Regions from separate parts of the Homo sapiens genome. Here region 2 is reported to be linked to region 1. Evidence: microRNA targets listed by miRTarBase, many of them from high-throughput screens and not tested one by one. Region 1 holds a microRNA gene; the other region holds the end of a gene's coding sequence.
What was found. The annotated mature microRNA hsa-miR-548aa reads AAAAACCACAAUUACUUUUGCACCA and lies in region 1 at 1,896-1,920, opposite strand. An mRNA with a match to its seed (bases 2 to 7 or 8) in the 3' UTR can be bound and repressed. Matches are read on the target gene's strand: a 7mer-m8 pairs with bases 2 to 8, a 7mer-A1 pairs with bases 2 to 7 and ends in A, and an 8mer does both.

Region 1 (4,450 bases):
GTCTTGCTCTGTCACCCAGGCTGGAATGCAGTGGTGCAATCTTGGCTCACTACGTACAACCTCAGCTTCCCAAGTAGTAGGACTACAGGCACAGGTCATGTCACCATGCTGGCTAATTTTTTTTTTTTTTTTTAATAGAGATGGGGTTTCCCTATGTTGCCCAGGCTGGTCTCAAACTCCTGGCCTCGAGTACTCTTCCCACCTCAGCCCCCAAGTTCTGGGGTTACAGGCGTGAGCCACCATGCCTTGCCTTTTTTTTCTTTTTGATGTTATATATTGTTTGAGAACTCTTAAGTTCCTTTGTGAAATTATGCTTTATAAAATGTCTTCTAGGATTCATTTGTGGGGGGTCTAACAACCGTCTGTTTTCCATTGATTTCAATTTCTGTGGGCCATTTGGGATGTTATTTTATAGATTTTTTTAATCCATTGGAAATAGTGAGGTGCCCTGAGAAAATTTATTCACATGTAATGCGTTAAATCTTACAAAAGAAGAAATATTACTGAATGATATAGACTGTGTTCATAGTATTAATCTCTTCTCTCTTATTTTTAAAATTTAGTTCTATTGTTTCCACCCTGCTAGCTCTTATGGATGGATTGGACAGCAGAGGGGAAATTGTGGTCATTGGTGCTACGAACAGGCTAGATTCTATAGATCCTGCTTTACGAAGGCCTGGTCGCTTTGATAGAGAATTCCTCTTTAGCCTGCCTGATAAAGAGGTAAGAATTTAATGTCACTCAAATTTTGACAAAATATATTGCTGTTTATTAATAATAAGTCTTGGTATAGTAAAAATTTGGAGATTCTTGAGTTTTGTATCATGGTCTTGTCAAATGATAGTAAACAACTCAAATGGGGACAAATTTTTATTCTTTTCTTTAAATATAATAATGCCTTCCCAAAATTACTCTTAAAATTATTTCAATTTGAGTGTAGCCTTTGGATGTTCTAAGTGTTGCTTCAGAACATATGGCTTAATGAGTAATCAATCCTTAGCCAGTTTGTTAGCCTTGTCTTTTTCATGAATATCATCATATAATCCTACCGAGTTTTTTTAAGTCTACTTAATCTTCTGGGAACCAAAGAGGAAAATATGTCAAGAGCTGTCTGTACTCTTAAAAACAGCTCTTAATATGCACCAGAATGAATAGCTACTTTAGTAGTTACTTTTCTCTTATTTGTGTTTATGACGAATATAACTTTAGTGCTATAAATGCAAATATGTTTAATAATGAGACTTAAGTTCATTAAACTCTTAAAAGTACATCCTTTTTCTTATTTTCACTTTCATATTTTGCTTATATTGAGTTTTTTTGGTTGGTTGTTTATGATAAAGTCTTGCTCTGTCACCCAGGCTGGGGTGCAGTGGCACAATCTCAGCTCACTGCAACTTCCGTCCCCGGGATTCAAGCAATTCTCGTGCCTCAGACTCCCAAGTAGCTGGGATTACAGGCACATGCTACCACGCCCAGCTAATCTTTGTATTTTTAGTAGAGAGTGGTTTTCACCATGTTGGCCAGGCTGGTCTTGAACTTCCAACCTCAAGTGATCCACCTGCCTCGGCCTCCCAAAGTGCTGGGATTACAGGTGTGAGCCACCGCACCCGGCCAGTATTAAGTACTGATCACTTTAAAATTTTAGATAATCAAAAGTATTTTAATCAAAATTAATGTAATCTGAATAGCATTTATTATTATAGTTGTAAAAAATTAAATTGTTTTTATTCATAGGCTCGAAAAGAGATTCTAAAGATTCACACCAGGGATTGGAATCCCAAACCACTGGACACATTTTTAGAAGAGCTAGCAGAAAACTGTGTTGGTAAACATTGTTTTAAGCAGTTAAAATAAATACTACATTTATTTCAAATATGAAACAAGTTATATTAGGTTGGTGCAAAAGTAATTGTGGTTTTTGCCTGTAAAAGTAATGGCAAAAACCACAGTTTCTTTTGCACCAGACTAATAAAGAAATACAAGGTTATATTTGTTTCTTATCTCTTATTTGTGGCATTTTCTTCTCATGAAGTCTTGGTATTAAATAGAGATATTTGACAAATTGGCCATCAGGGGCAGAGTAGATAATAATATAATTGTACAAAATACAATATATTATTATATCATAATAAGATAATAGCTATTCTTTACTGACCATTTTGTAGTCATCCTTTTAAGCATTTTACATATATTATTTCATGTAATTTTCACATCATTCCTGTGATGTAGGTAGCAGTATCTCTACAGATGAAGAAATGGCTGGAGAGCATTATGTGAATCTTCTAAGGTCATACAGCTAGTAAATTACAAACTGGAATGTGAATCTAGTCTGTGTGATTTTAAAACTCTTGCTTTTGACCTCTGTGCTATACTTAGTGCTTGTGTATTGCACTCTTAAAAGTTGATTGATTGTTGATGGCCATTACTACCCTATAAGTTTACTGGGTAAAAGAGATTTTGGTCTTATTACTCTTAAATATTTGCTAACTATATTCCGAGGCTGATTTTTAATTTTTTTTTTAACCATGGTCATGCTAATAGAGTTTTGTGTTTCTTTGTTTGGTCGGCTGGTTCTTTTCTTCCCCTGGTTGCTTTGGATAGGATACTGTGGAGCAGATATTAAATCAATATGTGCTGAAGCTGCTTTATGTGCTTTACGACGACGCTACCCACAGATCTATACCACTAGTGAGAAACTGCAGTTGGATCTCTCTTCAATTAATATCTCAGCTAAGGATTTCGAGGTAGCTATGCAAAAGATGATACCAGCCTCCCAAAGAGCTGTGACATCACCTGGGCAGGCACTGTCCACCGTTGTGAAACCACTCCTGCAAAACACTGTTGACAAGATTTTAGAAGCCCTGCAGAGAGTATTTCCACATGCAGAATTCAGAACAAATAAAACATTAGACTCAGGTATAAAACTTGATTGACCATTTAAAGTTAGTTTTTATAATCAGTAAAGTGAAATGTTTCATACATACCAGAAATATTTATTTGTAAAAGAATCTCTTGAAAAGAATTTGGTAATGCTTTACCTGGGATATTTGAAGGAAATTTACTCCATGGATTGCCCTTAATTTAACTTATTGTAAGTTTGGGGTGCATTTTTACATTTACTTATTAATTCATATCTACACAAATATTTTTGATTCTTTGAAAAAATTTAATTGAAGTATGCTGACTTGGTAACTGAAGCAATAAAGATTTGCTTTGCAATCCAAAAGTTACTAATGTACAATTTTTTGGTTTTATAGATATTTCTTGTCCTCTGCTAGAAAGTGACTTGGCTTACAGTGATGATGATGTTCCATCAGTTTATGAAAATGGACTTTCTCAGAAATCTTCTCATAAGGCAAAAGACAATTTTAATTTTCTTCATTTGAATAGGTATATTTTTCTTGCAAATCAATGTTTTTTGCATGTGTAAATTTTCTAAAAATAAATGAGATGTGGTTGAAAAAATAAAAAGTGCTAACCAATCTGCTTTTTATTTAAATTAAACTACCAGAAATTTTTTGTTGTTACAGTTGTCACAACAGTAGAAATTACAGTCTATAAAAATATTCCTAAAAACCTTTGGGGGTCAGTTTCCAGAAACTATGTGAACCATGTTATGATTGGTTGGCCTTATTGGCAAGACTTTTTACTTATGAAAGTTTATAGTTGACAATTTAGGGGGAAAATTTAAACTGTTTTTTCTAAAACATAGCTTATTAATCATTTCTCTTTCAGAAATGCTTGTTACCAACCTATGTCTTTTCGACCAAGAATATTGATAGTAGGAGAACCAGGATTTGGGCAAGGTTCTCACTTGGCACCAGCTGTCATTCATGCTTTGGAAAAGTTTACTGTATATACATTAGACATTCCTGTTCTTTTTGGAGTTAGTACTACATCCCCTGAAGAAACATGTGCCCAGGTAATTTGTTGGTGCCCAAGTATAAGACAAAACAGGCTTTCAGAGGCAAAAGCTAAAATTGCCCCATTTTTTTGTATTGTGTTTTTTTGTCTTTCTGATTTGTAACTTTAGGTTTACAAAACAGAGTTATGCATGATTGCTTAGTCATTAAAGAGAATGACTTTAAATCCCACATTCACCCTTAATATCTTTGTGACCTTAGTAAAGTTGTTAGATCTCTCTAATTTTCCCCTTTTGGAAAATGGAGATAATACTACTTACCTCACATGGCTGTTGTGAGAATTAAATGAGTAAAGTACTTAAAATGGTGACTGCTCCTTAGTAAGTACTCAGATATTCTGCAGTTTCTGTTTTTGGTATTTGTATATTAACTTTTTTTTGTTTGTTTTTGGTTTTGGTTTTTTTGAGACGGAGTCTTACTGTGTCACCAGGCTGGAGTGCAGTGGCACGATCCTGGCTCCCTGCAACCTCCGCCTTCCGGGTTCAAGCAATTCTCCTGCCTTAGCCTCCCGAGTAGCTGGGACTACA
Region 2 (4,000 bases), not on the chromosome of region 1:
AGAGACAGAAGGTAAATTAGTAGATGCCAGTAGCTGGGGGAAGGAAGGGATAGGGAGCAACTGCTTAAGGGTATTGGCTGTTGATGGGGTGATAACATGTCCTGGAATTAATGGCGATGGTTGTACAACTCTGACTAGATTAAAAGCCAGTTAGTTGTACACTTTAAAAGTGTGAATTTTATCGTATGTGAATTATATCTCAATAAAGCTGTTAGGGGAATAAAACCAAAACTTTCCCATGGCTTCCTAAATTTTCCAGTGTGATACTGCCCCCACCACCTCTCTGACTTCGTCAAATGATAAATACATATTATGGGCCTACTATGTGCTAAGTACTGTTTTAGGCATTTGGGGTATATCAGTGAACAGACAAGAATCCACCCCCCGTGGAGATTATATTCTAGCAGAGAGATGGGACAAAAACGACACATATAATAAATAACTTAATATGGTAGAAGGTGATAAATGACACAGAAAAACATAAAGCAAAGTAAGGGGAACCAGGAGTGCCAGTGTTAGGATGGAGATGTAGATTCTGTTTTAAATAGGGTGGTCAGAATAGCCCTGATGTGGCCCTTCTCTAGGCTTCAGCTACACTCCTTTCTGTCCCTCACATATGGCAAACTCATTCTCTCTTTAGGGGTTTTGGCTAACTCAAGACTGGTTCCTTTGTGTCATTCAGATTTCAGCTTTAAAATTTCCACAGAGGCCTCCTCTTGATTATCCAATCTAAGAGCTACCCAGTCACTTGCATCATCTCTCTGTTGATTCCTTTTATATCACTCATTGAATTAACTCATTCAACAAATGCAAATGCTTCATACATTCCAAGCATTTCTAGGGATATAGCAATGAACAAGAATCAAAATTCCTGCCCTCGTGTAACCTATAATCTGGTAGAGAGGGAACAAATAGAGCTATAGTGTTAGGTATTGGGATGAGGAAGCAAGGAGCTGCTCTTTCCTATAAGGATGGTCATAGAAAGACTCAAGCTGGTCATAGCAGATGCCTGAAGGAAATAAGCAGGGATGGGGGGCTGGCCATGGGGACTGGAGGGAATGTCAAGTAAAGAGCAACTTGAGATTCAGGCCTCATGGCTTGGAACATAATTGTAGTGAAAAAAGAGACAAAAAGGTAAACTCACTTTTTCCCCAGGGGAAAGTGAGTCTGTTTAAAGCCATATTGAATTTGAAGTATTAGTGGAGCATCCCAGTAGGAACATTCAGGAGGCAGGTGAAAAGACGGGACTGAAACCTGGGATTTTAGGGCTAGCTGGAGATTTAGGAATCATTTATGGAAAAGTGAAAGATAAGTTTGTAAGAAGAGATGAAATTTACAAAAGACCGAAGGAGCACTAAAGACTAAGTCTTAGGGGATTCAGCTGGGTGTAGTGGCTCATGCCTATTGTAATCCCAGCAACTCAGGAGGCTGAGGCGGGAGGATCGCTGGAGCCCAGGTGTTTGAGGCTTCAGTGAGCTACGATTGCATCACTGCACTCCAGCCTGGGTGACAGGGTAAGACCCCATCTTAAAAATTTTTTAAAGTCTCAGGGGATTCAAAAAATATTTTAGGAATGTAATAAAACATTTCTTGCTGGTATTTTCCCTAAGTCTCCTGTCCATTATTCAGCCCCATTATAATGCATGTGGTCTTGTCTGTCTTGCTGACTGCCACAATTTCAAGTGCATAAGAGTAACAGGAACATAGTAGTGCTTGGGAAATATATAAGATGAATGAATAAATTGTTTGCCTTCCTCTTTAGGCATTTTTAGCTAAGAAAATAACCAACGTCTATAGTTCCTTTTAATGAACACTCAGGATCTCTCAGGATTTCTGCCTCTGGTGCATTCCTTTTAGTGTCTCTACACGTGTTTAATGTTACATTCAGTACCTGCAGTTTATTTCTAATGACTTCACTGCCTAATATTTATAGATCATTAAAATATAAACAAAGTAGGCCGGGCATGGTGGCTCAAGCCTGTAATCCCAGCACTTTGGGAGGCCGAGGCGAGCAGATCACGAGGTCAAGATTTCGAGACCAGCCTGGCCAACATGGTGAAACCCCATCTCTAGTAAAAATGCAAAAATTAGCGGGGTGTGGTGGTGCGTGCCTATAATCCCAGCTACTCAGGAGGCTGAGGCAGGAGAATCGCTTGAAGCCAAGAGGCAAAGGTTGCAGTAAGCCAAGATTGTGCCACTGCACTCTAGCCTGGGTGACAGAGTGAGCTATCAAAAAAAAAATTATACACACACACACACACAAAAAGTAATCCAAAAAAGACAAAGTGGATACCAACATTCTTGCACTGAAGACTACAAAAAGCATTAGACCTAACTTTCAGCTGACAGGCTGTAGACTCTGCTCCTGATGGGACAGGTGAAATAAATCTGGGTGCGTTCGGACTAGATGACTAAGGCAGCATTACTGTCCTTTTCCAACTGCCTGGCTTGTGCAATTCCTTCTAAATAGCACTCATTTCCTTAAGCTCTGGGATGCTGAGCAGTATTTTGTCATGTTTTCCTCTCACACTGAAATAAAAGAACAGCTCCTATTAAGACTAGAACTGTCGAGTTGTGCAGAGATGAAAACAGAGAAAAGTGTTTCTTTTCTTATTTGGTAAATATTTTGCTTTTGAGGCATCAGTAACTAATCACAGCTGTTTCCTTTAGTTACAAATGGATTCAATCAGGTAAAATTTCAAATGAAACACAAAACCACTAGAGTCATTCCATTATACAGTACAATGGTAGTGTTAAGCCTTGTGAAATATATGTATTAAGTATGCATGAATTCATCAAATCAAACAAAGAAGCTAATGGGTCTCTGATTAGTGTTCTAACTCTATTATGGTGATACTTCCATCTTACTCTGACTCATCTAAAACATGAGAACAAAATGCTATTAAGTTTATTATACCATCTGTTATCTGCCATCATTCTGGTTAAGTAACAAAAACTGAATTTTGGCTAGAAGTTCTCTCTTGAAAATCAAGGGCAAAAAAGAGCTGCTGTTAAACTGAGATATTTCAATTTTAACTTCAGTAACTTGGAATCCTTTATGTCAAAACTAAAACAAAAACCAAATCCCTGTTTATTCTCATCTAGGATTCAAAAAAAATCTTGTTTCCAATGGGATTGTTACATGGATATTAACGAACAATGGATATTTCAATCGAGAATCAAGTATTCAGAAAAATTATACACAAAAATATTTCTATTGCTTAATAGAAAACATATTTTTATTCCGTACTTTAAAAATATAGACTTTCTAGCAACTTATAAATTTCTATTATAATAATAAATTGATACTTTGAGCCAAGAAAACAATATAACCAAAAATTCATTTGTTCCCTTTGTTTAGGGGTGTTTTACATTTATGCATAATTTTGCTTTTATAAAAGATGATTGTTACAATCAGGTATACAACTACTTGGTTATGTCTAAGTTCTGTCTCTTAAAATATGTTCTTTTAGAGAATTCATTTAATCATCTTATTCTTTTCTTCAATTTTCTCCAAACAGTGGTAGAAGTACTATTTGATAGACAGAATAAAGAAAATTGTTTTTGGCCACACCCAGATCATACTGATATCTACAGCATAGTCCTGGCTACAGGGGAGCTCAACTCTAACTCGTGAAGCGGGCCTGGTTTAGAAAGTAACAATGAGGTAGTAACTCATGATAGTGCTAGCTGTTATCAAAAATTAACAACTTTAGGTATTTTTGTTTTGGGTTTTTGCGGTTTAGGTACATCCAAAATTTCTTCATAGTCTGCACTCATTCCCTTTGCCCAGCGACCAACTGTGACCATTCGCTCTGTAAAGGAATAGAAAAATCAGAATGTTAGAAAAACAGTAATCAAATGCATCCACTCAGATTGTTATTGGTTTGGGAAAGGAACTCATTTTGATATGAATAATCACAAGGAGGGAAGACTCCATCACTAAAGGAAAGTGAGCAATTCTGTAATTGATTATAACCCTTGATTTCAGAGTACCACA

Region 2: miRTarBase lists ZCCHC9 as a target of hsa-miR-548aa. Seed matches in the 3' UTR shown: 7mer-m8 at 3,076-3,082.

Annotation. Positions count from the first base shown.
Region 1 is chr8:123,345,558-123,350,007 of GRCh38, reverse strand. MIR548AA1 (microRNA 548aa-1) reads right to left here and starts at 1,974; the gene lies at 1,878-1,974. It overlaps ATAD2 (ATPase family AAA domain containing 2), which reads left to right. Exons shown (of 28, transcript NM_014109.4): 14 at 564-723; 15 at 1,735-1,825; 16 at 2,602-2,916; 17 at 3,258-3,390; 18 at 3,736-3,922. MIR548D1 (microRNA 548d-1) reads left to right here and starts at 1,878; the gene lies at 1,878-1,974.
Region 2 is chr5:81,312,359-81,316,358 of GRCh38, reverse strand. ZCCHC9 (zinc finger CCHC-type containing 9) reads right to left here. Exons shown (of 6, transcript NM_001131035.2): 6 at 3,062-3,815. The coding sequence ends at 3,697. It also overlaps a transcript of ACOT12 not described here. Among named protein-coding and RNA genes, the nearest start is that of ZCCHC9, 13 kb to the right of the region's middle.